7 linked regions of the Homo sapiens genome follow. The protein of the gene in region 3 interacts with the protein of the main gene of each other region in a biochemical or structural test. Each region holds a gene or a part of one and is shown on either strand. Other genes may lie near its edges.

Region 1 (4,248 bases), on a different chromosome or scaffold from region 3:
GACGGAGTCTCGCTCTGTCTCCCAGGCTGGAGTGCAGTGGCATGATCTTTGCTCACTGCAAGCTCCGCCTCCCGGGTTCACGCCATTCTCTTGCCTCAGTCTCCTGAGTACCTGGGACTACAGGCGCCCACCACCACGCCCGACTAATTTTTTGTATATTTAGTAGAGACAGGGTTTCATCGTGTTAGCTAGGATGGTCTCGATCTCCTGACCTCGTGATCCGCCCGCCTCAGCCTCCCAAAGTGCTGGGATTACAGGCGTGAGCCACCGCACCCAGCCTGTATCATGTTTTATATGTGAAATATTTCTTACACTTTTAGTTAAGTTCAGGATCTACTAGAATATGTGGATTTTCAAAACTTGCAAATAAATCAAATTATTAAGTTGTATTGATACATTATTAAAATCAAGAATTTGAATAAATCTTACCATCAACCTAATTCTCAAAACAGTAAATAAAATATTGCAAACACAGTTCCACATATAACAGCATTTAATAACTGGTAAATGTAGATGAAAATGCAGTCAGTATCAGAGGACCTGTTTATTATATCACTAACTTGTCAGTGGCCTTTTCTAAAATCAAGTTTCTAAAGACACTAGAGAAATCCACATTAATATCCTCAGAAGATTTTTAAACTGAGTACGATGTTGAGAAAAATTATGTACATTTCAGAATACCAGACGGTGATAAATTTTGTCTCTCTGTTAAAATTTGGGACAGTAGAAAAGATTCTACACCCAGATTTGGAGGCTCTGCTTCCAGTTCTGCCAATGAGATCATTTCCTTTACATATCTGTATTTCATTTCTTTGATAGTAAAAAGGGAGTAAGAGTATCTGTTCCCACTTAACACAGGGTTGCTGTAAAGGGCAAATGAGATAATGCTGAAAAAAATGAAGTACTAGATAAAAGGAGGGTGCTTGCTTCTTTCCCCTCCTAACTCTAGTGATGTGGCCTTGAGAAGCCACAAAGGGTGAAGAAGGAGCCGGAGAAACTGATCAAAGGAGGTAAAGAACTCCTGAGGGCAAACCGAGTTGAGGGTGAAGCTGGAGGAAGAGACAGGCAAAAAAGATGGGAGTCAAAAACAACAAAGCAGCCACCAGACACTAACCAGGTGCTTCTCCAGAGTCCCTGTGCTGAACATCCATGGTGATGGGGGCCTAGGAAAGCAGAAAAGCAAGCATTCCCAAACAGCGGGCACTCGAGAGAATATACTGGCCCCTGTGGGAAAGGCATTCTAAGAAGGCTCTGGATTGGGGTGACAGAATAGGGTCCCATATGAAGGTAACATTTGGAGAAATCTGGATCCTCCTTAAGAAAGATGGGTGAGACGCTGAAGGGAAAGAAGCCAAGACCTGTGTTGACAGTAGATGACTGCACTGCATGAGGAAGCTGGTGTTGCTATCTGTTTTAGCAATATGGTGGGTTTAAAAAAAAAAGAAACCAAACAGACTAGGACTCCTGTCCCAGAAGGGGCTGCCTCTAGCTAGTACTGTGAATTTAGAAGATTAACCTAATCTTGGTTTCCTGAGTTTCTTGAAGTATAAAATGAGCTGGACTGGATAATTCCTAAGATACTCTGAAGTTAAAAATCACAACAGACATGGTGGGTCACACCCACAGTCAACACATATCATTGACTAGGTTAATTGCTGAGTGCTTAGCACTGTTCTAAGAATAACGTCCAACAGGCTGATCTTTAAGAGATATGAAAGTGTGCATCAGGAGTAAAGCCAAAAATGTTGGGGGAAATCTTATGAGATCTCATGGGGCCAAAACATAAGCAGGAGGTTTCACTTCTACAAGCGGAGCCACTACTGCCAGCATGCTCTGACTCAACAGCAGAACTCCAAAATGCACTCATGACCTAGGCAGTTCCATTTCACAGACAACGTTGTTCAAACACAAATATTTGGGATGGTTTTAACTACGTGAATACTGAAGGCTATACTGAAAACTGCCTGATGTGGCATAAATAGCTAGTAATGAACAATCGAACAATCAATACATCATGTACTTATCCATCCACTCAACACATATTTATATACTAAGTGCTAGCCACTATTCTAGACACTTACATCAATGGACAAAGCAAATAAAGCTCTGTAATTAGCAGAGGGCGCAGACATCAACAATAAACATAACAAGTCAATTCTGGGTTTACAATAAAAGTGTTAAGTGCAATGGAAAAAAAGATGTGGATCAGGTGGTGGGTGGGGAGCACAGGTGCCACAGTTTTAAATAAGATGATCCCAGGCCTTGTTGGGAAAGTGGCTGTGAACAAAGATGGGAAGGGTTTCTGGGAATCTGCTCCCTACCGTGCAGGTTCTAGGGGAAGAGCATTCTAAGCAGGACATGCCCTAGACAATGCCTGAGCCGGCGACAGCATGCCTGTCAGTGCAGGGACCAGCTGTGGGATCCATCTCTACAGCCTCCTGCAGGACTCTGGCAGTGGAGGAAATGCTCATTTGAAGCTAGACCTCAGGAATTCGGGTGCCAAAAGTGGCCTCAGAAAACAAATCTGGCACTTATGACAGACTGACTTAGAGGGCTGACTCTGTTATTTAGGAAGATGAGGTGCTTTGTTAGTGGGTGATGACAGTTACTTTCATGTTCTATTTTCATTATCAGTTTTGCAGGTTGCCTTCATTTTCCCCCTTTTCATCATTTCCCCCTTTTCATCATTTCTTCCTTACCCCCTTTTCATCATTTGGACATAAAGCTAAAGATGCAAAATTCTCAAACTGTTCAATGTATGTGTTATTGTTAACCTGATCATGAGTAAGATACCACCTTGCTTACATCTTAAACATCAGCAGATATCTCACCAACTTCAGCCCATCTTCCTTGAAATTTCCTTTAAGGGCATGACCAGCTCAGACGGTGACTGATGCAGGTCTAATAATTTTATTTCTGTGTGTAGTCTGTGGACAAACACTTTTTTATTGACAAGAATTTCCATAGTGTTGACTGTATTCATGAACCTGATTATAAATGTATAAATAAATAAAACTAGTTCTTTTAAGCAGCTCTGCTTAATGGACTGAATGAAACATCAGAAATACTGGCTGTAGCATCACTTAGCTGTAGAATGTTAATGGGCTTCTCACCGAGACAGCTTTTTAAAATATCAGTAACTCAAAAGAACTTGATGTGTTTATCAAAATACTTTATTTTGCTTTCTCCTTTCTTGTAACTGTCCTGATATGTAGGTATGTATACGTATATATATTTTATTCTGGTCGTGTCTGAACTTGGCTGATCATCAACACAACTTGAGAATTCTTTTAAAGATAGTGATTTCTGGGCCCTATTCCAGAGCTAGTTAATCTAAATCTGTGGGATCAGGACCCAAGAGTCTATTAAAATATGTAATATGTCTATATCTATAAGCTCTGAAGATGGATTCTGAAGTTCAGCAGGGTTTAGGAATCACTGGCCTAATCTACTACTTTGTGACCCCAAACAACATTCTATGTGTATAGTTCATGGTTCCATATGCGGCAAGTCCAGACTCAATTCCTTCTTCCCTTCATTTATTCACCAATGATAAACTGTAGACAGATACCACTACTGTCAGTTTCTGTACTTTACTTTTGAGGGTGCTGCATCGTAGCGTATTTAAAGAAGGTCATACTTCATGTGAATTTTAACATGCTGGTATCTTCTTAGTGATAAGCAGGTTGAAATATAATTCTCTTTGAATTTGGAAATGAGAATCAGAAAGGCTTTTCTAAGTCCCCTCATTCATCTTTTCACACAGTTAAAATCATCTACCAAGAGAGTCCCAAGGCAAAACGTCAAAAAAACTGATGCTTCAATTACTTCCATGATAAACTTACCAAATGGCTTTGGAGCTTACGTCTGAACATTTTTAGTGACGTGGAACTCATACCTACAGGCAACCCATTTTGTACTGTCAGGTCTGTTAAATGTTAGTGTTAAAAAGTCACAGTTTAAAAGTTTACTTGTATATAAGGAACTGTGATCTGTAACACCCTGCCCCTTCTTCTCATAGATTCTAGTTCTTTTACCCTTTAGAATGTAGAAATCTTTTCTCCAACATGATATAGGTCCCTCCTACTCTTGCTCAAATTAAATAAGTCATGATTTTAAAAAAATACCTGGCAATACTTAATAGGAAACAAAAAAACATTTTTTTAATTCTTAATCTTGGCTCTGTGAGAATGATCACTATAACTATTTTGATATCTATCCTTCCAAATTATTTTCCTCCATATATCA
Region 2 (4,248 bases), on a different chromosome or scaffold from region 3:
AAAAAGCTCTCTCTCTCTCTCACACACACACACACACACACACACACACCACCAACGCAGCAGGCACACTGCCCCAGCATAACATTCACCCTTGAACAGCAACTCCTGCTCACTAAAGAACTGAGTAAACATATATGGGTCTGACCATATGTGAACATTCATCACTAACAGCTTTCCCCACTTAGTTCTTTTGTTCAGAGAGTCCACATATCATCTATTCTAATACATACAAAATAAAGGCAACATTGCTGAACTCAGTGGATTTTTAAGGTAAGCAATTATTTTATTTCCTTGGCCTGATGGCATTGACTTCATTATACAAGAACTTGCAGCTGACAGAACTGACACACACATTTCCCCCAAGAGAAAGAACCCTTTTCATTAGCAGAGATGAATTGAAATGTCATGTCTGAGTGCAATTCCTGCTCCCCACTCCCACCCCACAAAATCCCAAAAGTGAAAATAAATCAATAAAATCCCCATGATTTACTAAAAGTCATCCCTCCAAACCTTTCTAACTAGCAGCTGCAGTGGATGATAACCAAGGAGGGAAGCAGCTGGCCATCATGTAGCATTCCTGTGCATGTGAGCCTGAAGGGACAGCAGCATGGGAGCAAGAATCCTGAATGAGAGTAGTATATAATTACCTTACTTCATACTTGCCCCCTCCCTACATAAGACACCTCTGTCCTGATACATGGAAAATACTAGAGGAGATGCTAAGAGTGGTTTTAGTCTACAATTGGAAATGCCTGAGACTTATTAAATTCCAAGGAAGGGGTGAGATAAGGGGCACCAAAGAGAAAGAGCAGGTTAGACAGGGATGCTCAACACTCTTGTCAATTCCAGTTTAATGCTATTTAATAACAAAACCATCTTCTTAATCACAACCACCTTCATGCCTAACCCCTATTTTCCAAAGGTAAGAGATCCCTGTCTAAATTTCTGGGTTGTTGTCTACTGCCACCCCTGGGGTGGTACTGTGATGTCTGAGTGAGATTGCAACCGGGATGGGAGAAAAGAAGTGTGAGACAGGGAAGATCAGGGGCCACAATGCATCAATTACAGTGGGTCTCTTTTGGTCCCCAGGTATGGTCCACTACCACAAGTCCCCTTTCCCTACCTGTCTTGTGCAAATGTCAAAAATAGAATCTCTGCCCAAAGAGAAGGGAGCACAGGGAGTTGCTGCTGGACTGCCATCATCTCTGGCCCCAACTTGTCCACCTCCTGACCCATCTATGAAACTGCACAACAATTAAACCCCAGGAATACTGTAAACTTACATCATCCCCATTCCTCTATCAAAGCCAATCCAACAGCTCTGTCCTGACATGCTTTCTCCCTGGGCCGAGGAAGCAGCAAAAAATATCAATTGAGCATGTGAAAATGTGATGACGGTGTGTGTGGTGTAATGTTTCTAGATGTCTTCACCTTCTGTCTCCTTGCGGTGGGAGCCACCCTCTTTCCCCATGTCGCGCACACACACCCCTCCCCTACCCCCAAGTCCAGGTGCTCCCATCTGCTGGGCTTCCAACCACTCATTTCCCATAGACACTCTCATCACTGTAGGCCACATACAGAAAATAGTCTTCCTCATGATTGTCCTAGGGGAAGAGATAAGACAACAGTTTAGAAAACATATTCATTCATTAGCTCTAAGATGCTGAGCCTCACACAACCTTGTAAAGCAGGTATGGAAGGTATCATTAGTCCCCATTTAAAAGAGGAGCAAAGGATAGGGAGAAGTGGTTGGAATTACACTTTGAGCTCTGAGTTCACAAACAAAAATCCTTCATTGAAAACATATTACACATAGGTATCAGGGATATGAAGATGACTAGGGCACAGTCCTCACTCTTAAAGAGCTCACTCCTAGCAAGGGGAACATAGATACCACAGATGGATATATAATGGGACATATACTAACAGGGAATATATGCTATGCAAAAAAAGATTCAGGATTATTAGAAGTTTACGTAATTCATTAACGGAGCACAATGAGAAGGAAGCATCTTATGCAAAATACTGCAAAAAACAATAGTTATAATCCCAGGTTATATTTTCAGTAATAATAAAGTCCTTCACTATAGTTTCCTCAGATTCTGACACTTCCAATTAAACCACATCACATAAAAATTATTCCTCCTGAGTTTATCTGTTAAGACATGAATCCATTTACAGACTTTGCCTTAATTTTATATTTCATTTTATCTGATTCATTGTGCCCAGATAATGTGGAATCTGTTTCACAGTTTTAGTTTTGTTCTAAGAAAAGTTTCCCCTTGTTTAGTATCAATGTGGTTGTCTTAAGCCAAAACTTCAGAGTTCATAGAAGAAGCTGACTGTGGGGAGAATCCTTCAGTTGGCAGAGGCTGGCCTCAGAGTTAGAAGGAGCTGGCTTTACTATTACGTGCTTTCTCAATCTGTTGCTAAATGGGAGTAAAATAATGAACTGGATTCTGAATGCATTACAAATTACATGCTACCAACCAGAATAGCAGGAACTGCGATGGGCTGACGCTTTGGAACTTTTGCTATCAGGAATCACTTCCTGCTGTTTCAATAAACAGTCCAGCATTAAAACACTATAGTCAGACAAGACTATAGTCAGACAAGATTTCAGAAGGATTAAATCTAGTAGAGTGGCTAATCCCTAAAAAACAAGAGGTATCTAATCTCTCAGAGCCTTACACTGCCATATGTAAGAGGATCCGGATAAATAACACCTTCTGCCCCACTTCTCAGATGTGTTATCAACGCATCTAGAACAAGGGCTAGAGGATGCCAGACTGCACTGGACGGCATCCAGTATTGTGCAACCAGAACCATTACCTCATACAGTTGGCCCATGGTAGCACTGGTGGGAGGGATGGTGTTGTTGACAAAGAAGAATAAGGCGTCCTCAGGTCTCAGGTGGATTCTCTTCCGGATTAAGAAGTAGAACTGGCCAACTGGATGATGGAAGAAGAAAAGGGCAGAAAAGAAAGTAAGAAAACAAGGAATTAGTAGAAGGGTAAGTCCTGGAAAAAAATTCAATTGCATTTTTTCACCTTAGAGTCAGTACCAGCTTTATATACCATCTGAGAAGAGCCAAATACCGGCCTGGAGCTTTCAAAATAAAAAGGGAAACTCGGAAGCCCACACAGTCCCTGACTTGCCATAGTGGAATTTATTCCTCCTTTCCCCTCTTATTCAATCTCAGACCTCATGTTAGCATATCCACTCAAAGCCTGAGGACTACGTTGAAGGAATACCATGTGCATCCAGACCAAAACATTCCCATCACTGTCTAAACCTGACTTGAAACTCTTTCCATCCCCAGACCCTCCCTAAGAAAAACTTAGCAATGGAAAGGGGTCCACTGGACTCTGGTCATCTTAGCACAGTCAGTCACCTCAGTGTTGGGGCATTAAACAAGGTTCAATGCTTTGCCTTTACTTGAGAATACTGAAAATTTTCTAGATGGCTGATATTCAAACCTATTAACTCTGGAGCAAATCAACAAAATCTTTCCAGTGTGTCCTGGATGCAGTGTGTATTCCATTAAGGATCACGATGAAGACTGAATATATGTATTTTTTTTTTTTCCGAGACAGAGTTCTACTCTGTCACCCAGGCTGAAAGCGCAATGGCGAAATCTCGGCTCACTGCAATCTCCACCTCCCCAGGTTCAAGCAATTCTCCTGCCTCAGCCTCCCGAGTAGCTGGGATTACAGGCACGCGCCACCATGCCCAGCTAACTTTTGTATTTTTAGTAGAGACGGGGTTTCACCACGTTGGCCAGGCTGGTCTCAAACTCCTGACCTTGTGATCCACCCGCCTCAGCCTCCCAAAGTGCTGGGATTACAGGCATGAGCCACCACACCCAACAATGAATATATGTCTTATAATCTCAAACAAAATCTACAAAACTTAGTTTAAAAAAATGTAGCTTAAGAAGATGTATTTAATCAGGAAACTCTAAAATATAATCCTCTCAAGAAGCCAGACTGGTTTTCTTTTTGGAACAAATTGATATCACAATTAACAAAGCCGAATTTTGGGGTTTTTTTTTTTTGTTTTTTGTTTTTTTGAGGCGGAGTCTCACTGTGTCACTCAGCCTGGAGTGCAGTGGTGCGATCTCGGCTCACTGCAACCTCTGCCTCCCAGGTTCAAGCCATTCTCCAGCCTTGGCCTCCTGAGTAGCTGGGATTACAGGTGCCCAACAACACACCCAGCTAATTTTTGTATTTTTAATGAAGACATGGT
Region 3 (3,939 bases):
GTGAAAGCATTCAGGTGGCACCGGAGTCTGCAGTGATTAGGGGCTGGAAGGACTCTGATTTGGAGGGGAACCAAGGGCACCTGAGTGAGGTATGATGGAAGGTGGAATTGAGACCTTAGGCTGAGGATGGACTGCATTCCATGCGAACCTCCATGCTAACGGGTTTGTGCTTCATGCTTTTGGCTCTGGGGAGCTCTCAGGTTTTTTGGCGGTACAGTAACCTGATCAAATCTGTGTGCTAAAAAGGAAACACTGATTGTGATGGAGGGACTGCATAGGATGCATTGCAGGGGAAGAGATGAGCGGAACAGAAAGAGGAGGCTAGTGTGATAGGCTTTAACTTTCAAGGAAAAAGACAAAAATCTACTAAGTCTCTTTCTTCATAATGAGGTACTGACATTCTAATACCTTAGTTTAATATCATTTATAAAATAAATGTCTGCCGTGATGGACAGCAAAGCAAGGACTTCTTGTACAGGTGGGGCATGCTGTGGGCTAGCTGCTGCCCGAGTTGGCTAGAACAGGAAACGTGGAAGCAGAGGGCCATGGCCTAGGTCCCCAAAATTAAAAGCTATGGCCTGGATTATGGCAGAAACAGGGGGCTGGAACAGCACCTTCCCAGGCTGGCTTGAGTGGGTGGGAGTGGATTCCCTTCTAACTGGGAAACTAATTCTCATGCCTGAGAGGAAGGAGGAAAAGACACTTCGTTCTGAATTAACACTCCGAACTCTTTTTCTCATAGAAATGATGTTGTAAATAGTGGTTGGCTACAAGAATGGCTTCTTTGATGAGCAGCAAGGTGCCTGAAATCCAGTCCATTTTTAGCTATTATTTTTATCTTCTGGCTATTTCACTAACAACCAGACTTATGCAATACGACCTTTTTGTAAAGTGGAAATTAATTATCTGTGGTTGAGAGTTTATAATCATGTTAGTTCATCAGGTAATAAGTTTAGGATTGCACTGAAAATTTAACGTGCTGCTGTGAGGAACTAGACCAGAAGACATCACCCAGCATACTGACTTGGAAACACTCCTATTTTATAATGAACCACAGTTTTGTTTTGTTTTTTAAAATCAGAATAGAACTTTATTTGTGGATTCAAGATTTTAAAAAATGATTTTACACTTTAAAGTGTGCAATAAATTTTGATACATCAATCTTGATATATATATTTACTGTGTCAGAAGATTTTAAAAAGTCAAATAGTTTATAATCAAAATGAATTGTGTTTAACTTGATACTTATATGGAATAACTTCAGCATTATAAATAAAAACCCAAAACAAACACCATTTAAATTTGAGTTCTGATGAAATGCATTTGTAATACAATTTTGTTAAAAATTTTTAATAAGAGATTGTAGGCTAAAGTTATATGCTTGTAATTTCTAGAAACATATGATGTCCTTGCTTTATGAAAATGATCCTACTGACTGTCCCGCAGTAGAATGCATTTGAGACACTTTTCTATCTGGGATAAGGGGCTGTGTTGCTTGATAGATGTTTCTTCCAGACCACGAGCCCCTAGTGGGAGATGAAGGGGATGAAGGTCTGCAGCTGGGGACTGGTGGCAGTTGAGTCTGGTCTCATTTAACATCATGTTCTATGAGTCACAGAATCATCCAAATGAGTATCAGCCAGATACAAAGAAAGCTTTGTATTTTCTCATGCTTAGATAGTTCACAAACATAATATTTAAATAATTGTGGCAAAATCCTGTTTTAACAAAAATAATTTTCACATTCCATTCTACATAATGAGGACATTTCCAAAATGCATTGGCCCACATTACTATTACTTTGCTGATATGAAGAAAATGAATTATGATGGTAAGATCCATATACAGATATACACATGTGTATCCATATTATTTATATATTTAATATCAGAAATGTTCCTACTTCCTTGTCTCTTAGAAGTCACTTTACTTTTAAATGATTCTTTGGGAGTGTGGTCAATTTGCACACCTGACTTGACACAATCTGACGGTCAGCACAAAGCACCTTCTGATTGTATAACACTTTACAAAGTACTTTTTGCTTTCTCATCTGTCTGGAACTTCTGACAATCTGGCATGACAATGAGGGTGGGCATGATTACTCTCATTTGACAGATGAAGAAATATGAATCCAGAGAGGTTAAGTAAGCTGCTTCAGTTCACATGGCTGGTGAGATATCAAACCAGGACTATACCTGGTGCTCATCCTTGACTGCTGGTTGACAATGGTGAAGACAAAACGCAGGGTACATTAATCTGTGAATTGCTTCCCCTAAACCATGCTGATGCTGTGGTGTTTGGAAAGTAGAAAGTGGTTTTGCTACTGTCACATTTCAGATTTCTATCAGGTGCTAATGAGTACTCATCATGTTATACCCCAACAAACTTAAACCAAGAACCAGAGGTACTTTTTACAGTTCTCACAGGGTGTGTATATATATATATTTAAGAAGATTCGTAACATATATTTACAATTATTCCTAAATCACCAAGATACCATACTGAGAAATAGGTTTAATCTTTTTAAGAGCATTTTCTATATAATCATTCCAATATAAGGATGAAACAATATAAGTATGAAATATAAATACAGTCTTGGCACACTTTATCTTTGCAGGTGTGCTGGAACCTAGAACACTTTCCCTTTTGCCTTATTCTGCTTACGCCTACTTTTGATTGTTTTACAAATTCATAGACACATTTGCAAGTTCCTTGAGGATCAGGACTCAGCTTCTCTGAAGCTGACAACTCTTACCCCAGAGCATAGCACAGCGCTAGGCACGCAGCATTCAATAAACGTTTGATGAATACATGTACATGGTCTTTATGTACTTCAGTTTGGTTAAAGGAAGATATGAACTGTAGCATTTTGCCTACAGAATTCTGGATTTGTAATTAAAAACATTGTCTTCATAGTAAACAGTATTTTAAAAGGCATAAGAAATAGTAATAAATTTAATACAAATTATGCATTATAACAACTCTTTGGTTATTTTAAACAAATTATTTGGTTTTTTTACTAGAGTGATACTAAAAATATAAAAATGCGACTACAGAAATTAGCTTAATCTGTAAACATGATAAACCCTGTAAACATACATTTACTACATAATTGTACAAGTGTAAAGAATATCTAGTAAAGGCAAGTGCTATACACTTCATTTAGTTCTTCAAGGCATATTTAGAAATACTGCTTTGTGGATCTTTAATGTTTGAAGAAGGAATTCTTCTAACTACACTAAAATATGAAAAAGTGATGACTATACCAATGGTCAATAGGATATGCAGGCAAGAGAAAGGCTTTAATACTTTTTACCCATTGCAAATATGAATTTGCTTCACATGTCTTATGAACCATCTGTTTAGTAAAACTGCATATTAACAAAAGCCAAATACTTCGAAAGTGAAGAAGTAAACAGTTTTTCTGTGAGTTAGTTGGCTAGAAATATAGGTAACACACTTTCCAAAGTTTTTTCCCAAAAATCTAGGCAGTAAGGTGCATAAGGCAGGTCTACAAAATAATAAATAGCTGCGAGTAGCACTAAATATATTGTAGTTTACTCAATAGTAAAGTATTTCTTTTTCCAAATTTCAGTTTTCCATCTCAAAATGCATCAAACTTTTCACACATGACACGTATCACAAATATTTCACAGTTATCATCTCAGTAGTTTAAGAAAAAACTGCCTGGCAGATACTATACAAGAGGTAAATGTTAAGGACAAAATTCACTATTTAAGTCATACAGGACTTATATCCTATTGTGTGAACTCTAAAGCCAGGTGTGGTGGTGCCTGGCTTTAGGCAGGCACCTAACTCTAAAGACAGCATGAAACAACTGTGTAAATGCAACACATTATTTAAAAGTGATTAAAAATAAGTTGTCGTACTATTTCTTCAAATGCTTTTTATATGATTTTCTTCAAGATCTGGGAAGAC
Region 4 (4,248 bases), on a different chromosome or scaffold from region 3:
AGAAGCCCCAGAAGCCCATCCCACGGCCCCTGGTGAGCCAGGCTCCTGGTTTTGTGGGAGTGGGGAGGATCTTCTGGGGTCCCTGGGAAGCTTTCGTGCCACATGGCCAGCCATCAGAGCCGCTTCACAGTCTTTCAGCCCAGCCTGAGGGGCACTATCAGATGTCTGATCATGAAGAGAGGTCCCAGCCTCGTAGAGATAGGGAGGAAGGTATGATAAGGATGTAGCATCCCAGGACACTCCCCACCCACAGGAACCCTCTGTACCTGAGCAAATCTCCTCCTTCCCCTCAAGGATGCAGGCTTTCCCCAGGAAAAGCAGTGCAGCCTTCACAGCCCCACCCCACCCCACTCACAGCCTCATCCTTGGAACCCCAGAACAGTCAGGGAGCCGGATTCCTGAGTCACCTGGTGGGGAGAGCCAAGAGCTCTGGAGAGCGGGGTCCTCTCCAAGACTGACTCCCTTGGCCCAATCAAGCCATTATCCAAAAAATTGTGTGTGTGTGTGTGTGTGTGTGTGTGTGTGTGTTATTTATAATCTTTTCCAAGTGGGAGAACAGAAGAAAAAAAAAAAAAAAAAAAATATATATATATATATATATATATATATATATATATATATATATATATAAAATCTTATTTCTTTCCCCAAATAATCTGGGCTGATTTACAATTAAAGACACATACAAATATGGTTAGTAGAATAAATAAAATAAATTCCATAAAAAAGTGGAGAAAATATATTAATCTAAGCACTGACATAATTACTAAGGTTGAAGTTTAAATTTGCCCTTGAGCCTTCAGACTGTGGGAACTAAAAGGGAAGCACAATGAACAGTGTGCTAAGGATGCTCAGGGCAGGAACAATCTCTCCCTGAAGATCCATCATGGAAGGCCTCATGGAAGATGGAGCTCTGGGGATGGGCCTTGAAGCCCAGGAAGCATTTCAGCAGGACAGCCAGTGGCTTTAGCCTCCAGGACTTTTTCCTCTGCACTCTCTGTGGCAGTGTTGCAGGGGCTTTGGGCTCACTAGAGGGTAGAGTGGGAGGGTGGGTGGTCTGGGATGAGAGGCAGCAACAGGCATTTGCCAGCCTCCCCAAGGGCCCTGCTGAGCACTTTCCATTTGCCTCTCCTTTCAGAACAAGTACCAGGGCTTCATATTCGACATTGTGACCAAGCAGGCCTTTGACGTCACCATCATGTTTCTGATCTGCTTGAATATGGTGACCATGATGGTGGAGACAGATGACCAAAGTCCTGAGAAAATCAACATCTTGGCCAAGATCAACCTGCTCTTTGTGGCCATCTTCACAGGCGAGTGTATTGTCAAGCTGGCTGCCCTGCGCCACTACTACTTCACCAACAGCTGGAATATCTTCGACTTCGTGGTTGTCATCCTCTCCATCGTGGGTGGGTATACAAGTCAGCTGGACGGAGAAGCCCTCCCCAGCCAGGCCTCTCCTCCAGCCCCTGGGTCTCTGCTGAATGCCATGTACAACCCTAGCTTCTTTCATAATTTTTTTCAGTGCATTTCTCACCCCCCTTCTCCCCTCACACATACACGCACACACACCTCTCCAGAGAGAACTTATCTGGAAGGCCCCACTTGGGCCAAGGAGACCAATCTGGCAGAGGACCCAGCACTTGCTCCTGGCCCCACCCTCCAGAGGAACTGGGAACACAGTTCTCTAACTGCTTAGAGAGCTTCAAGGATGAGTCTGGGAATGGGAGTGGGTGCTGTGGAGGCTAATTCTGCCTGCACTTAGGTTGAAGGAGAAGGAAGCTCAGGATGAGATGGGTCCCCAGGGATGGGGGATAGGTGGCCCTCCAGAGTAGAAATTATCCCTGAAGATGGAAAATTCTGGAGCTAACCGCCAAGGTGTATGCCAGACTCCTTCAGACATCACCTGCCTCATGCAATTCACCCAGTCAATTCAGCACCAAAGGAGGGAGATTGTGCAGCTAGGGAGAAGCAGAGACCCAATCCTGACCCATGTCTGTTTGACCTCGGAGCCCAGATCTTTTTTTTATATAACAGCTTTACTGAGACATAATTCACATACCATAAAATTCACGGTTAACTTTAAAGTCACTTTAAAGTATACAATTCAGTGTTTTTTAATATATGCACAGAGCTTTGCAACCATCACCACTATCTAATTTTAGAATATATTCCTTTCCCCAAAGGAAACTCTACCCATTTAATAGTCAATCCCCATTCATTTCCCCTCTCCCTCACCCCTGAAAACCACTTATCTAAAGTTTTGAGGGACCACCAAACTGTTTTTCAATATGGCTGCACCTTTTTACATTCTCGCTGTCAATGTATGAGGATTCCAATTATTTTGCCCTCACCAACACTTGTTATTGCCTGCATTCTTTTTATAGGAGCCCTCCTAGTGAGTATGAAGTGATATCTCACTGAGGTTTTGGTTTGCAAAAGCAAATGACTGATGACTAACGATGCAGGACATCTTTCCATGTGCATGTTGGTCATTTATATATCTTCCTTGGAGAAATCTCTATTCAGATCCTTAGCTCATTTTTAATTGGGTTATTTCTCTTTTTCTTGTTGAGTTGTAAGAGTTCTTTACATATTCTGGATCATAGTCTCTTATCAGATATATGATTTAAAAATATTTTCTCCTAGTCTGTGAGTTTTTTCATTTCCTAGTGGTGTCCATTAAAGCACAAAAGTTTTACATGTTAATGAAGTCCAGTTTACTTATATTTTTTCTTTTGTCACTTGTGCTCGGAGCCCAAACTCTTTAACTCTACCCCCAAGGGGCTCTGCCTTGCGGTGACTGTGACTTTCATCTTTCTGCCATATACAACCTCTGCCTCTGGTAAATGTAAAGGATAATGCAGGGGCTAAGGCAGGCACTGCTGTGGCTATAGTGACGGGAAGATGGAAGCACAAAGTAGGGTCAGGAATCTCTGGGGGGTCTCAAGCAGGATGAGGGTGAGAGCGTGCCTTATGGGACTGGAGAGGAGTTTTAGAGAATGCAGGATGTCAGCAGCAGGAATGGAACCATTGAGGGACAGTCTCAGAGGCTTTGGAAGGTTCAGCATGTACTTTGGGATCTCTCCTGGCCCGCTGTTTGGGCGGTACCAGAGAGGAGGAGTGGTTAAGAGATCAACTTGGAGCCCGAACGTCTGAGTCAAATCCCAGCTTCTCACTCACTAGGTGGCAACTTGGGTAAGTTACCTCACCTCTGTTTCCTCTTCTGGAAGATAAGGATGATGGCATCTGCTCACTTCCTAGGACAATGGGAAGGACTAAATGAAATGATGGCTATAAAGTGCTCGGCCCATTGCCCCAGTGATCGTAAACACTGGACCCATGTCAGTCAGTGACATTATTATATAAGGAGTCTGGAAAGGGCACTTGGGCCATATAAGACAAGTTTATTTCACTCTTTATTCCATGATTTATATCCATGCCCCTTAAAACTCCAAACCCAGGTAGTCACAGGAGACCCAGGGGCAGTGACGCCCTCAAAGGAGGCAGAGTTAGGAGAGCGATAAGAACCATCACAGAGAAGCTGAGAGAAGACACTGGCCATGGCGTGGCATCAGGGAGCACTGATTTCTGGGCCAGTGTTTCATGCCCTTCGATGGGCACATAAATCATCTGGGCTTCTTAAGATGCAATGGGCTGGGGTGGAGCTGAGATTCTGCATTTCTGATAAGCACCTAGGAGATCCCAAGGCTGCTGGTCCTCAAACCACACTTTGAATAGCAAGGAGCTAAAAGACCTGAGTTCTGGCCCAAGCTGGGTGGGCAAGATACTAAGCAGATCCCCTCTGGCCTGAGAACCCAAGATGTAGAAGATGGGCCTAGGACAGCTCTATTGTGTAGGTACACACTGAAGATTAAGGAATGAGGGGGCTGAGAAGGAACCCTGCAAAGGACCCATTTTTCTGGGTCACAGATGCAGACATGGAGACTCAAACAGACAGGAGCAGGCAGAGTCCTAGCATGCCCAGTGGACGCAATCCTGGAAGGGCCGCCTCTCCTTGGCTCCTTGCCATATAGAGACCCCCCCCCCACCGCCAACCCCTGCACAGTGATGCTGGCTGGAAGACAGAGGTGCCACCAGTAGCCACAGTCTCTGTTGTTTCCCACAGGCACTGTGCTCTCGGACATCATCCAGAAGTACTTCTTCTCCCCGACGCTCTTCCGAGTCATCCGCCTGGCCCGAATAGGCCGCATCCTCAGACTGATCCGAGGGGCCAAGGGGATCCGC
Region 5 (4,248 bases), on a different chromosome or scaffold from region 3:
GCAATTAATTTTTTTTTTGTTTTTTTTTTTTTTCTGGAGACGGAGTCTTGCTCTGTCGCCCAGGCTGGAGTGCGGTGGTACGATCTCGGCTCACTGCAACCTCCACCTCCAGGGTTCAAGCGATTCTCCTGCTTCAGCCCCCCAAGTAGCTGGGACTACAGGCATGAGCCACCATGCCTGGATAATTTTTGTATTTTTAATGGAGACAGGGTTTCACCATGTTAGCCAGGCTGGTCTCGAACTCCTGACCTCAGGCAATCTGCTGAGCTCGGCTTCCCAAAGTGCTAGGATTACAGGTGTGAGCCACCATACCTAGCCTTGCAATCAATTTTACCCTAAAAGTCCTTTTGTTATGTCTTCTTTTCAGTATCTAAAACGTATATACTAGATCCCTTTGTCGTTTATAAGTGTGATGATTGGGTTTTCATGTTCCTGTGTGAGATATGCCTCCTTCAAGCCTTGTTATGATGTCTGCACATTACCTGCCTGTCATTTAAAAAAAAAAAAAAAAAAAAAAAATATATATATATATATATATATATATATATATATATATATATATATCATCAGGTACAGCTTTGTGGATTGTGAAGCATATTTAAGTGTTGGGAGGAATGAGGAATGAGTCTATTTGCTGGAGTAGAAGACAGAGGAGTTGAATAAAGTGGGCAAACACATGAGTCCAAGTTTGTTTTCTAGGGCAAGGAAGAGATTTGAAAACCTAGGGTGAATCATACTTCAGAATACTTATGGGAGGGCATGTATACTTGCACTATGATATTAGGGCTGTACATCTAATCAGAATCAGAAGAATGCCACTTTATGAGATCGGAGAATATGCTTCAGGTTATATGATTAGAAATTACGCTTAGACAAAGAGTAGGGTATGTTCTCATAGCAAATAGAAGACATTTAAAAATTCTTTTTCACAAACACACATGAGCCGTGAGGCCTAATTGCACAAAGTAGACACTAGAAATAAAAGGGAAGGTGAAGCAAAAAGGAGCTAAAACAATTAAGAGAGTGATAATAGAGCTTTCACCTTTTCTAATGAAATAGGTCTAATGAAATAGAAAACTCACGCTGATATCTGATATTTGTATTATGCCTCACGCTTTTACAAGGAGTATTCACAGAAATCTAATGTAGTGTTTGCCGCAATCCCTTGAAATAGGAGAGACAGCCCTTTCCTTGTTATGCCTCTATTAGAAATGAAATAATAAGCTGAATAGGTTAGCTGACATATCCAAAGCTCGCAGCCAGAAAATACCAAGGCTAGGAGAATGGAGAGTGGACTGCCCAGTTCTATAGCACGCTTCTTAGGAAGAAGCAGCTCTCCTAGCAGAAACAGCTTGGGCTAAATCTGTGCTATAATCTGTTCTTCATAAAAGGGAGTCAGAGGCTGTGCCTATTAGCAGAAACAGGAGGACTTGAGAAGGAAAGTGAGAAACTTTCTGATGGCTTTTTTTTTTTTCAAAGACCAGACTTACGGTCTAAACATTATCAATTTCATCTGTCAAAAAATTGTTTTCTGTCTTGTTTTATTATATCTTTTGAAGAAAGAAGAAAAAACATAAAAGTGAATTAGCCTATTTATGCCATCATTTCAGTCCATCAGCAGTATACCACCACAATAAACAAGCCATCTGCTGGCTAATACTGCTAGTAAGATCTACAGCACATGTGTTATGAAGAAGCAATGTAGAATGAAACATTACCAAAGGAACATAAATGATTCTTGATGTTATGTAAAGAAAATGGAAAGGGAGGGAAATCTGTACAGGACAGGTCTAGAAAATGGTGCTTGACCAGCAGCCCTCAGGACTGCTCTATCTGTGAAGCAGCTATTCTTTATTCCTTTACTTTCTTAATAAACTTGCTTTCACTGAAAGAGAGAAAGAGAGAAACAGAGAAAGAAAGAAAGAAAGAAAAAGAAAGAAAGAAAGAAAAGGAGGGAGGGAGGGAAGGAAGGAAGGAAGAAAGAAAAGAAAGAAAGAAAAAGAAAATGTTGCTTGGACAATTTTTGAAGCCTAAATAAATTATGTTACGGGCTGGGTGTGGTGGCTCATGCCTGCAATCCCAGCACTTTGGGGGGCCAAGGTGGGTGGATCACCTGAGGTCAGGAGTTAGAGACCAGCCTGGCCAACATGGTGAAACCCCTTCTCTACTAAAAATACACAAATTAGCCGGGAGGTGTGGCACGTGCCTGTAATCCCAGCTACTTGGGAGACTGAGGCGGGAGAATCACTTGAACCCAGGAAGCAGAGGTTGCAGTAAGCCAAGATTGTGCCATTGCATTCCAGCCTGGGCAAAAAGAGTGAAATTCCATCTCAAAAAAAAAAAAAAAAGTTACAAGAAAAACTAATGCAGAACACATAGAGAAATAGGAATAGAAATATTTCAGACTTACTCTTTTTTTTTTTTTTTTTTCCTGAGATGGAGTCTTGCTCTGTCGCCCAGGCTGGAGTGCAGTGGTGCAATAGACATACTCATTTTTAAAACGTTTTTATTACTTTTCCTTCATCAGTAGTGTTACAAAGAATGGAGTGTCCCTCCTACAAGAGCTCATCTCATGAAGATCCTTCCCAGTCACCAACTTAACCAACTCATAAAGTAGGATCTATGTCTAGAGTAATTATTTATTTATTTATTTATTTATTTATTTATTTATTTATTTATTTTTTGCCTAGTTGGTCAGTCCATTACTAAGAGTGTTTTAAAATCTCCACCTCTAGTGGTAGAATTGTCTTTTGGTTCTTTTAATTCAGTCAATTTTTGCTTTATGTATTTTGAACCTCTGTTATTAGGCACATATACTTTTTTTTTTTTTTCTGAGGTGGAGTTTTGCTCTTGTTGCCCAGGCTGGAGTGCAATGGCATGATCTCGGCTCGGCTCACTGCAACCTCTGCCTCCTGGGTTCAAGCAATTCTCCTGCCTCAGCCTCCTGAGTAACTGGGATTACAGGCACATGCCATCACTCCCAGCTAATTCTTGTATTTTTAGTAGAGACGGGGTTTTGCCACGTTGTTCAGGCTGGTCTCTAACTCCTGACCTCAGGTGATCCACCCACCTCAGCCTCCCAAAGTGCTGGGATTACAGGCATGAGCCACCGTGCCCAACCACACACACATCTTTATGATTATTATTATTTCCTAATGAACTGATCATTTTATCATTAGGAAATTTCCTTCTTTATCTCTGGTAAAAGTCTTTGTTTTAAGTCTATTTCTTCTGATAGATACAGCCAGTCCAATCTTCTAAAGCCTACTTTTCACATGGCATATTTTTCTTTCCATTTTCTTTCAACCTGTGTCTTATAGTTAAGGTGCTTATCTTATAGACATCATGTGGTTAGATTTTCCTCTTAAAATCCTATCTAATGATCTCTGTTTTTTTTACTTGTGATGTTTAGCCCCTTTATACTTAATGTAATGACACAGTTAGATTTAACTTTACTGTTTTGCTATTTGTTTTCTATATGTCCCTTCTCTTCTTTGTTTGCTTATTCTTCCTTTCCTGACTTCTCTAGGATTATTTGAATAGGTTTTAGAATTTAATATTAATTTACCTGTTGACTTTCTAGTTATCCTCTTTGCATCACATTTTCAGTGGTGCTCTGAAGATTACAATAAATGACTTTATTTTTATTTTTATTTTTTTGAGACAGAGTCTCACTCTGTTGCCCAGGCTGGGGTGCAGTGGCACAATCTTGGCTCTCTGTGACCTCCACCTTCTGGGTTCAAGTAATTCTCCTGTCTCAGCCTCCCAGGTAGTGGGATTACAGGCACGTGCCACCACGCCTGGCTAATTTTTGTATTTTTAGTAGAGACGGGGTTTCAGTATGTTGGCCAGGCTGGCCTCGATCTCTTGACCTCAAGTGATCTGCCCACCTCGGCCTCCCAAAGAGCTGGCATTACAGGCATGAGCCACTGTACCCAGCTGAGAATAAATGACTTTAAATTTTCATAGACCATCGTCAAAATTTGCAAACAATGTAGGTGCATCTACCCCACTCTACCCTCATCTTTTATATTATAGCTGTCATATGTATTATCTATATATGTACTAAACCCTACAGTACAGTGCATTTTTTAAAAAATAAGGGGAAAATTATCTTTTGTTTTTATCCAGATATTTGCCATTTCTGATGTTCTTCATTTCTTCCTGAAAATCTGTTTCTCTCTGGTATCATTTCCCTTTAGCCTGGAAATTTTCCTTTAGGATTTCTTTTTTTTCATGTTTTTATTA
Region 6 (4,248 bases), on a different chromosome or scaffold from region 3:
TAAAAATATAAAAAAATTAGCCGGGTGTGGTGGCGCGCACCTGTAGTCCCAGCTGCTGGGGAGGCTGAGGCAGGAGAATGGCCTGAACCCGGGAGTCGGAGTTTGCAGTGAGCCGACATCGTGCCACTGCACTCCAGCCTGGGTGACAGAGCAAGACTCCGTCTCAAAATAAATAAATAAATAAATAAATAAGTAAATATTGGCTTCTTCAACTGGTGAGATGAAACCTATACAATAGTCATGTGAATAGCACTAAACAGCTGACATGGTGTAACTCCTCTCAGACTGAGGCTTATCTGGGGAGTACAAAGCATGTCAAGAAAATGTGCCTTCATTTCCTTAGATGAGTGTCCCCATCCTCCACTCTCCTCCACTGTTCTCCTCTCTGCTTCTATGATATCAACTTTTCTTTTTCTTTAGATTCCACATGAGTGAGATCATGTGGTTGTTTGCCTTTCTGTTTCTGGCTTATTTAACTGAACAAGAAAGTTTTTGACATGAAATTAAACTTCTGCTTGTAAACTCAATTCAAACTATTTACACTGTCTTCTCAAAAATGTTAACTTATTTTAATAAATCTACTGAATGACCGTATCTCATTTTGTTTTATGAAAAGAAATTGTAAGGGTGCTCAATAGCCTCTTCATTTTCATACTGTCTAGCTCCTGTGCTCCTATTAAAATTACTGCAAATTTAGCTTTTTAAGAACCCTTTGTTTCACTACCTGAAGTTCTATAAAAAGATCCAAGTTCCTTCACAACCGTTTCTTATGCTGTTATTCGTACATATGTGATAATACCACGTCTGAACACGTAGATAATAAGTAGGGGCTGGGTGCGGTGGATCATGCCTATAATCCTAGCACTTTGGGAGGCTAAGGCGGGTGGATCACCTGAGGTTAGGAGTTCGAGACCGGCCTGGCCAACATGATGAAACCCTGTTTCTACTAAAAATACAAATAATAATAATAATAATAATTAGCCAGGTGTGGTTGTGGGCACCTGTAATCCCAGCTACTCGGGAGACTGAGGCAGGAGAATAGCTTGAACTCAGGAGGCGGAGGTTGCTGTGAGCTGAGATTGTGCCATTGCATTCCAGCCTGAACAACAAGAATGAAACTCCATCTCAAATAAATAAATAAATAGAAGTATGTATTGTGTTGCTTAGAAGGTGTGGTGGAAATTAACTTGCTGAGTGAGATCAAAGGATTGGCACTGAATTGAAATAAAGAAATATTCATGCTGAGTCTGGTTCAAATATAACTGCACCTGTAAGAATTGCTTTCTGTAAACTTTCCATAGTATAAACCAAATCCAAATCACTCATGGCTTTACATTCCTGATCGTTAAACTTGAAGCACTTTTTAATACTGCATGACTTTAGCCAAAATATCTTAGCCAAGATTCAATGTTTGGTTGAACCACACTCACTTGGACATCTTGGTGGCTTTTGTTTCTTCTGACCACTCAGTTATCTATGGCATGTGTAGATACAGGTGTATGGAAGCCGATGGCTAGTGGAAGTGGAATGATTTTAAGTCACTGTTATTCTACCACCCTTTAATCTGTTGTTGCTCTTTATTTGTACCAGTGGCTGAGAAGACCAAAGAGCAAGTGACAAATGTTGGAGGAGCAGTGGTGACGGGTGTGACAGCAGTAGCCCAGAAGACAGTGGAGGGAGCAGGGAGCATTGCAGCAGCCACTGGCTTTGTCAAAAAGGACCAGTTGGGCAAGGTATGGCTGTGTACGTTTTGTGTTACATTTATAAGCTGGTGAGATTACGGTTCATTTTCATGTGAGGCCTGGAGGCAGGAGCAAGATACTTACTGTGGGGAACGGCTACCTGACCCTCCCCTTGTGAAAAAGTGCTACCTTTATATTGGTCTTGCTTGTTTCAGGCATTAACCCAGATAAATGCCATGCAAATTTTATAATTATTATGATTGTTTCAATTTCTGGAAGAAAGTTAATGAAACAAAAAATGTAGTAAAATGCCAAAGGAACAGTGACATTTCAGAAAGAATGAGGGCTTTCATGTTAATTGTAAGTCTTGGAATTTCTCTTCCTTGGAGTAACAAATCCCTTTGTGCCTAATTTCCTAATTTCCAAAATAAAGTTCTTTTACTTATTTCTTTATAGTGACATCATCTCTTATTAAATGGCATATCTGCATATTACATAACAGTTCATTGCCAAATACATATTTGTGGGAAATGAGAGACTTAAAATACATACCAACCAGAGATATAGTTTTGAGGTAGATTTTAAAATTCTGAGAAGAATTTTGACTGAATTTTTTTGACAAACATGGGACACGAATAAGATTATACCAAAGATATTATAACTTTCATTTTAAATATGGAACTAATACAGTATGAGGTGTCAACAACGTTGAAGTTTCACAAACATCACCACTACAACAGCAAAATAATTTTTGCTTTTTCCCTGCCACAATGACCTCCTTGCTATTTCTTGAATAAATCAAGCATACCCTTGCCCTGACACGTTCTTGGGGAGGCCTGCCCTAATCTATATAAAATTGGAGCCATTCTTCTCACCTCTGGTATTCCCAGTCTCCCTACTTTTTTTCCTTCTTTCTTTCTTTTTCTTTTTCTTTCTTTCTTTCCTTCTTTCTCTCTTTCCTTTCTTTCTTTTCCCTTCCTTCCTTCCTTTCTCCCTTCCTTCCTTCCTCCCTCTCTCCCTCCCTTCCTTCCTCCCTTTCTTTCTTTCTCTTTTTTCTTTCTTGCTTCCTTCCTTCCTTCTTTCCTTTTCTTTCTTTTTCCTTTCTTTGCCAAAGTGTTATTCACCTTTAAATATAATACATAATGTGCTTACTTTAATGTATGATTTTTATTTTATTTCTCCCTTCTAGAATGTAGGCACCATGAGAGTGAAATATATTTATTTTGTTCATTGATATTTCACAAGTGTCTGGGAGAGTTTCCAACTTACAGTAGACAATTAACAAACATTTATTAAATTAAGGAGGGAAGGAAGTGAGTAAGCACAACAACTTTCATTTCTGGGTCTTTTATAATCATATGCTTAGTATAAGAACAGTGCTATTCAGCTATCCAAAAGTTACAATCAAAATGATTTTGGATGAATATCTTGAAAATTGTGAGAAAGAAGTTTTATTTGCTGGCAAACTATTCTGGGTTGTTTCCACTTCATGTAATCCTAAGTAGCAGCCTTACCTTGATAGCCCATTAAAACTCTGATAATAAAAAGGCAGAACAAAAATATCTGTGATATATTTAGATTTACTACATGTACTTACATGTCTAGTGTCTGGTGCAATGGATGCTAATGATGGCAAATCCTTACTGGGCTTCTAGTGAAGTTCTTCAGCTAATGTTTGAATGCATGGTTGGTCATGGTGGTACCCCTTTGTACAAAATATGCTTTTCAAATAATCTTATTAGGGATAATAATTATATTAATTCCTGGTTTCCATCTAAAATTTTAATTCTATTTATAGCTTCGTAAGATTTCACAAGTTAAGAGGGACCTCAGATTAAATTAGTACACAGGCAATTAATCAGTTTTGTGTCTCCGACCCTTTTCACGGGCTAATAGAAGCTATAGACCCTCTTAGCTTCAGAAAAATGCGCACTCACATACGCACATCAAAGAGCTTAATGGGAAGTCCATTGACAGACCCTCTGTTCAGATCAATCTTCTGATTGTAGAGATGAGGAAACAGAAATCTACAGAGGAAGTGGGTAGTCCAAGATTGCACAGTCATTTGGAATAGACTGGACACCAGTAGTACTTTTCCAGCCACTATATCACTTCCCCAAGCACTTCCTCAAAACTTACCTTCCTTTGGGTCTTTATACATTCAGTTATGGACAACTAGATTTAACTAGAGGATTTTATTGCTTCAGAATATTAAGCAACAGGGAAACATGTACCGTCTTTTATTCACCTGCATTTAAGGCATACAATATAAATTGCAAATGGAGCATGAAAGTGCTTAATCTTTTACAAAACTGGGTTTGCTTTCCACCCATCTAAAAATACTTCTATTTATTTTAATATTTAAAGCAGAAATCTAAGTGATGTGACAAAATTAATCATTTGGAGATATTTCCCTTATAGGTAGTATAGTTTCTTACTGATTTCTAATATGAAAATGAAGCCATAGAACCTAGAAATTGCAGCATAGTTGTGGAAATAAACATTGGACTGAGAGTGAAAATGGCTAGTCTTCCTCTCTGCTCATACACCACCTGACTGGATAACC
Region 7 (4,248 bases), on a different chromosome or scaffold from region 3:
GACATCAAGGCCTCTTGTTAAATGCCTTGCCGCCGCCCTCTGCACTTTGCCCCGCCGCCGCCAGCAGCCTTTGAGTGATTGGGACCCTTGGGGTTAATACCTGGAACCCTAGCCTGTTCCAGCTGGCCCCTGGGTGCCCCAGTTAGTCCTGTGTTCTGTGTATACACAGCCCCCTACTTATTGGAAGAAAGCTGCAAGGCACGGAGGGAACCAACCAGTCTTTAAAATGCAGGTATACTGTAACAGTTTGTTTTCATCAGATTTCCCCGAGAGACTAGGGTGAGGAAGTGGTAAGGCCTGGTGTCTCCTGGAGTTTCTTTACACCAAAAGATAGGAAGGAAGGAGGGAAGGAAAAAAGAAAGGAAAAAAGCTAGTATTTGGTTTTTCTTTTAACTAGTAGTGGCTGCTGTTTTTCATCTAGTACATGCTGGGAGTTGTTTGCAACGAGAACTTGATGGATGGTTTGGAGTTGGGCTTTGAGGCAGTGTCCAAGTGGCTCCTATCCTGTAAGATACCTTCTTTTGGCAGAAGGAAATTGACCTTGCTAGGTCCTTAAGCCATGATGGGCCTCACTGTCTTCATCTGAAGAATGAGGCCGTGATGGATGAAATCTAGAATTCTATAGTCTTTCAAGATAGGGCCTCTCCCCTGCTGAGCCTGGCTGGAGGTCTTCAGGCTGGACCGGGCTTCCCACCCACTGCTGGTTCCCCTGTGTGGTCTTCAGCTACCCCAAATTTCAGACCTGAGAGGAGCCTACGCAAGCTCGGGGTTCACATCCCTGACTTACAGATGAGGAAAGTCCACCGTGGAAAGTTTTGCCCGAGGTCCAAAACCCACACCAGCCCCAGGCCAGGGTGGTTTCTCTTGGACTGCACGCCCACACCTCTTGAATTTGGTACTTGGGCCCCAGAGCAGGTCCTCCTTGAAATTGGGGGCTGGGGGAAATTGTCAGAGCCCCTTTGTACGCCGGGAGCCACGTCTGCTCTCAGGATGCTGAATGGAGTGGGCTTGACTGTAACAGGACACTCCTGGGGCCCCATTTTTTCTGAGAGTCGAGGGATGAGGCTGCTGTCTGGTGGGAATTCAGTGTTCCCAAAACATACCCGTGGGAAAACCCTTTCTTTTAAAAAGCCAAGGGTCCTGGGATTAAAAGCAGGCAGCACGAGTGACAGCCTTGCAGATGTCAGCCTGGAGCTTGAAGCGGCTACTTTTGAGGAAAGGACTCCTGGCACCTGGTTTTCCTGGCAACCTCATCTACCTCATTTCAGTTCTGCTGCGTCTCAGAGATTACCCCCGGTCTTTCTCCTCTGGTTATTGCCTCAAACTTCTGGGGCCCAGATGGATGCTAAGTTCGCTCTCGGGAAAGACTGAACCTGGGGCCACCCGGTGTCTGCTCACGCGGGAGGCGTTTCCTGAGAGTTCTGGGAGGTGCCCCTGCCCTGGGCCCATCTCTGGTGGTATCTACGGTGGCAGCTGTCTTTTTAACATCACCCACTGGCCAGAGTCACCGAGCCTCTGATTCTTCTTCTCCAACCTTTTCCAAACAAATATGAGAAAATATCAGAAACTCACAGGACACCCAGGTTTCCCTGGGCTTGCCTGGCACATGCTGTTTGACACTTGCTTGAATCAAGTGAGGGTGTAGAGACAGTGCCTTGGCACTGTGACATTCTGAGCCCGGTAATTCTTTGTTGGGGGGCAGGAAAGGCCGTCCTGTGCTCTGTAAGGTGTTACCAGCACCCCTCTCCCACACCCACTAGATACCAGCACCCCTCTCCCAGGTTTGACAGCCAGAAATGTCTCCAGACATGGTCAAATGCCCCCTACTGAGACCACTGTTTAATCAGTTAGTGGTTTCTCCTAAGGGGCTTGAGGGCCAGAGGGCAGCATCTGCGTTGCCAGGAGACCCTTAATTCCCGTCAGACGTTCGTCCCTGTGAAGGCCTGTGGCCACTCCGCAGCCACTCATCCACTCAGCTTTTACTGAGTGCCTGTTGTGTGCCATGAAGGAAAGATAGGGGCTTCCTCTTGAGATGAAGTTTTCCCGTTTTCGTCTTGGATTTGCTTTTCTAAGGAGAGACCCTGGCGTTAGTGAAAGCTGATGTTTTGGATTGGGGTTAAAATACAGATGTCCAACACCAGCTGTTCTCCCCTGTGGACCCGCTAAACCCTGGGACTTTTCACCCACAGGTTTTCTGACTGTCTGGGTTTTAGGTTGTGGTGCAATAGGGGAGTTATTAAGGGAGTTGAGTTCTATGACCCGAATCTTAGGTCAGACAGTTGGCCTCAGCTTCCCAGGAGGTCTGGGTTAAGCCAGCTACACTGCCCAGTGTGACCCAGGGTCGAGGTGAGTTTAGCATTTGTCAAAGCACAAAATAACTAATTGTTCCTGTACAAACACACACGCGCCTGTGAGTGGGTGCTTGCATGCGCACACGTGCAGACACACACACGCGCACACACAGTCATACACAGGCACACACAGCTTCTACCCCATCTGTCTTTCCTGCCCTCTTCTCTTTGGGTTGGGAATGGTTAAAACTTCTGGGCATGTAAGAAGAAAAGGAGGAAGAGTGCACATTCTCCCCTGTAAGAGGTGCGAAGGTATGCACCCTCTCCATAAAAGAAGGAAGGTGGACCCCTGTGTGCCGCTGCCCAGGAGAAGGGAGGCCGTCGGGAGGTCTGTGGAGGCTGGAAGCGTCTACAGCAGAGTTGCCTCCCTCAGGAGCCCCAAGGAAGCCTCCATGCTGCAAGATGCACCCGCCACCAAATTGCCCCAGAGCCACGGGGTCAGGTGTGCCCACATGCCTGCCCCCACCATCTCCACTCCCATCGTGGCCCAGGGCCAGGGGGTTTAAACGTTTATAGTCCGGTCAATAGTTTAAAAGCCAGAAAATGTTTGGAGGAAGGTGCTGGTGGCAGGGTCCAAACCTGAGGATCGGTGTGGCCTTCTCTCTTCAGGTGTTAGCATCCAGAGACCAAGTTTGCAGGCACCTCGGTGTCTGGGATCCTGCCCAAAGAGAAGGAACTCTTACACGGTGAATTTCGGAGGCTGTGCTGCTGCCAGCCTCGGGTTCTGTACGGTGCACATGCTGAGAGAAGGAGATTGAAGCCGAGGGCCCATTTTTTGCTTTTTACAAAGTGTTGCGTAACGCACGCATGGTTGGGGCACGTGCGGGAGCTGTGCGGGAGACGGACCTACTCTTCATGCACCCTCTGGAGTGACAAGGATGGTACCATGCTGTGCCAGGGGCTCCCCGAGGCTGGGGGAGCATGGTTCAGGGAAGCAAACTCAGTTGTCTTTGGGGTGGGCTCCAGGGAACCAGGGGCAAGAGTCCAGTTTAAAGGCACTGTGGCCACTGCTCAGCCCACCATTGCCACATGGGCCCTGAGTGGCCAGATCTTTCCGTTCCAGGGCAGCCGAATGGTTAGATTTTGACATAAAACTCCTGGGTTTTAAGTGCTGGCAGTTCCTTTTGTCTCCCCTGTCACCAAGAAGCCCCACAGAACCTGCTGGCAGACCCCATCTGTCTCATCAAGTGACCTGCCCTGCTGTGGGTGGGTTAGGAGTGAGACCGAGGGCCAGAGGGATGGAGGCGTCAAAACTTGCTGGCCGTGTCCCCTTTGTGCCCCCCTTCACTGTCATCTGATGGGTCTGTAAAGTGGGGTGATAATAGTCCCTGTGCTGAGGGTGCAGAGAGATTCTGGCTGTGTGTGGCCTAGTGTCTGGAGCAGCTGTGTGTTCATAGAGGTGAGCGATGATGGTGGGGCGGATTGGACTCGATGGTCCATTCTGCCTGGTTCCCTAGCGGTCACTCTGTAACAGAGTGCCTAGTGATGAGAAGGCCTTCACCAGAAAAAGGTTGCCCATCCTCGGACTGGCTGGGAAGGTTGGAATCAACAGGCCCATCTGGGGCCCATGGCCTTGAACATGGAGGTAATTGACTATCTGTGTAATACTCCTTGTCCTTGCCAGGCCCACCGCAGACCTGGCTGGCAACGACCCCAGCATGCCCGTTGCTGGCCCAAGAGGCCCCAGACGGTCTCTTCGGGTCTGCCAGCAGGGTTCCCTTAATCCACTGCCAGGCTTGGTGGACAGAGGCTGGAAGAGGGGGTACAAGGCAAGGCACAAAACTGGGGCCGTGAGGTCAACACCGCCCTGACGTCCAGATGCCCCACTGGCTGCAGTTCCTAAGACAGCCTAACCTGGGAGCAGAAAGCCCAGAAGCTTCTGATGGTTTGGGGCTCC

The links.
Region 1: the proteins of NEDD4 (region 3) and RAP2A form a complex in vitro, tested with the Homo sapiens proteins (2 studies listed by BioGRID).
Region 2: the proteins of NEDD4 (region 3) and GABARAPL1 form a complex in vitro, tested with the Homo sapiens proteins (2 studies listed by BioGRID and IntAct).
Region 4: the proteins of NEDD4 (region 3) and SCN5A form a complex in vitro, tested with the Homo sapiens proteins (3 studies listed by BioGRID, with this or other methods).
Region 5: the proteins of NEDD4 (region 3) and SGK1 form a complex in vitro, tested with the Homo sapiens proteins (3 studies listed by BioGRID, with this or other methods).
Region 6: of the proteins of NEDD4 (region 3) and SNCA, one has a biochemical effect on the other in vitro, tested with the Homo sapiens proteins (3 studies listed by BioGRID).
Region 7: the proteins of NEDD4 (region 3) and PMEPA1 form a complex in vitro, tested with the Homo sapiens proteins (2 studies listed by BioGRID, with this or other methods).

What each region holds. Positions count from the first base shown.
Region 1 is NC_000013.11:97,457,713-97,461,960, reverse strand, and holds part of RAP2A (ras-related protein Rap-2a), read right to left. Parts: intron 1-4,248. UniProt on the Homo sapiens protein: Small GTP-binding protein which cycles between a GDP-bound inactive and a GTP-bound active form. In its active form interacts with and regulates several effectors including MAP4K4, MINK1 and TNIK.
Region 2 is NC_000012.12:10,219,143-10,223,390, reverse strand, and holds the end of GABARAPL1 (gamma-aminobutyric acid receptor-associated protein-like 1), read right to left. Parts: intron 2,952-4,248; coding exon 2,833-2,951; coding exon of another isoform or gene 2,680-2,832; exon of another isoform or gene 2,409-2,679; intron 1,605-2,408; coding exon 1,539-1,604; 3' UTR 263-1,538; downstream 1-262. UniProt on the Homo sapiens protein: Ubiquitin-like modifier that increases cell-surface expression of kappa-type opioid receptor through facilitating anterograde intracellular trafficking of the receptor. Involved in formation of autophagosomal vacuoles.
Region 3 is NC_000015.10:55,825,860-55,829,798, forward strand, and holds the end of NEDD4 (E3 ubiquitin-protein ligase NEDD4), read right to left. Parts: 3' UTR 1,063-3,939; downstream 1-1,062. UniProt on the Homo sapiens protein: E3 ubiquitin-protein ligase which accepts ubiquitin from an E2 ubiquitin-conjugating enzyme in the form of a thioester and then directly transfers the ubiquitin to targeted substrates. Specifically ubiquitinates 'Lys-63' in target proteins.
Region 4 is NC_000003.12:38,551,440-38,555,687, reverse strand, and holds part of SCN5A (sodium channel protein type 5 subunit alpha), read left to right. Parts: coding exon 1-32; intron 33-1,138; coding exon 1,139-1,409; intron 1,410-4,129; coding exon 4,130-4,248. UniProt on the Homo sapiens protein: Pore-forming subunit of Nav1.5, a voltage-gated sodium (Nav) channel that directly mediates the depolarizing phase of action potentials in excitable membranes.
Region 5 is NC_000006.12:134,202,655-134,206,902, reverse strand, and holds part of SGK1 (serine/threonine-protein kinase Sgk1), read left to right. Parts: intron 1-388; exon of another isoform or gene 389-492; intron 493-4,248. UniProt on the Homo sapiens protein: Serine/threonine-protein kinase which is involved in the regulation of a wide variety of ion channels, membrane transporters, cellular enzymes, transcription factors, neuronal excitability, cell growth, proliferation, survival, migration and apoptosis.
Region 6 is NC_000004.12:89,819,731-89,823,978, reverse strand, and holds part of SNCA (alpha-synuclein), read left to right. Parts: intron 1-1,590; coding exon 1,591-1,733; intron 1,734-4,248. UniProt on the Homo sapiens protein: Neuronal protein that plays several roles in synaptic activity such as regulation of synaptic vesicle trafficking and subsequent neurotransmitter release.
Region 7 is NC_000020.11:57,703,341-57,707,588, reverse strand, and holds part of PMEPA1 (protein TMEPAI), read left to right. Parts: intron 1-4,248. UniProt on the Homo sapiens protein: Functions as a negative regulator of TGF-beta signaling and thereby probably plays a role in cell proliferation, differentiation, apoptosis, motility, extracellular matrix production and immunosuppression.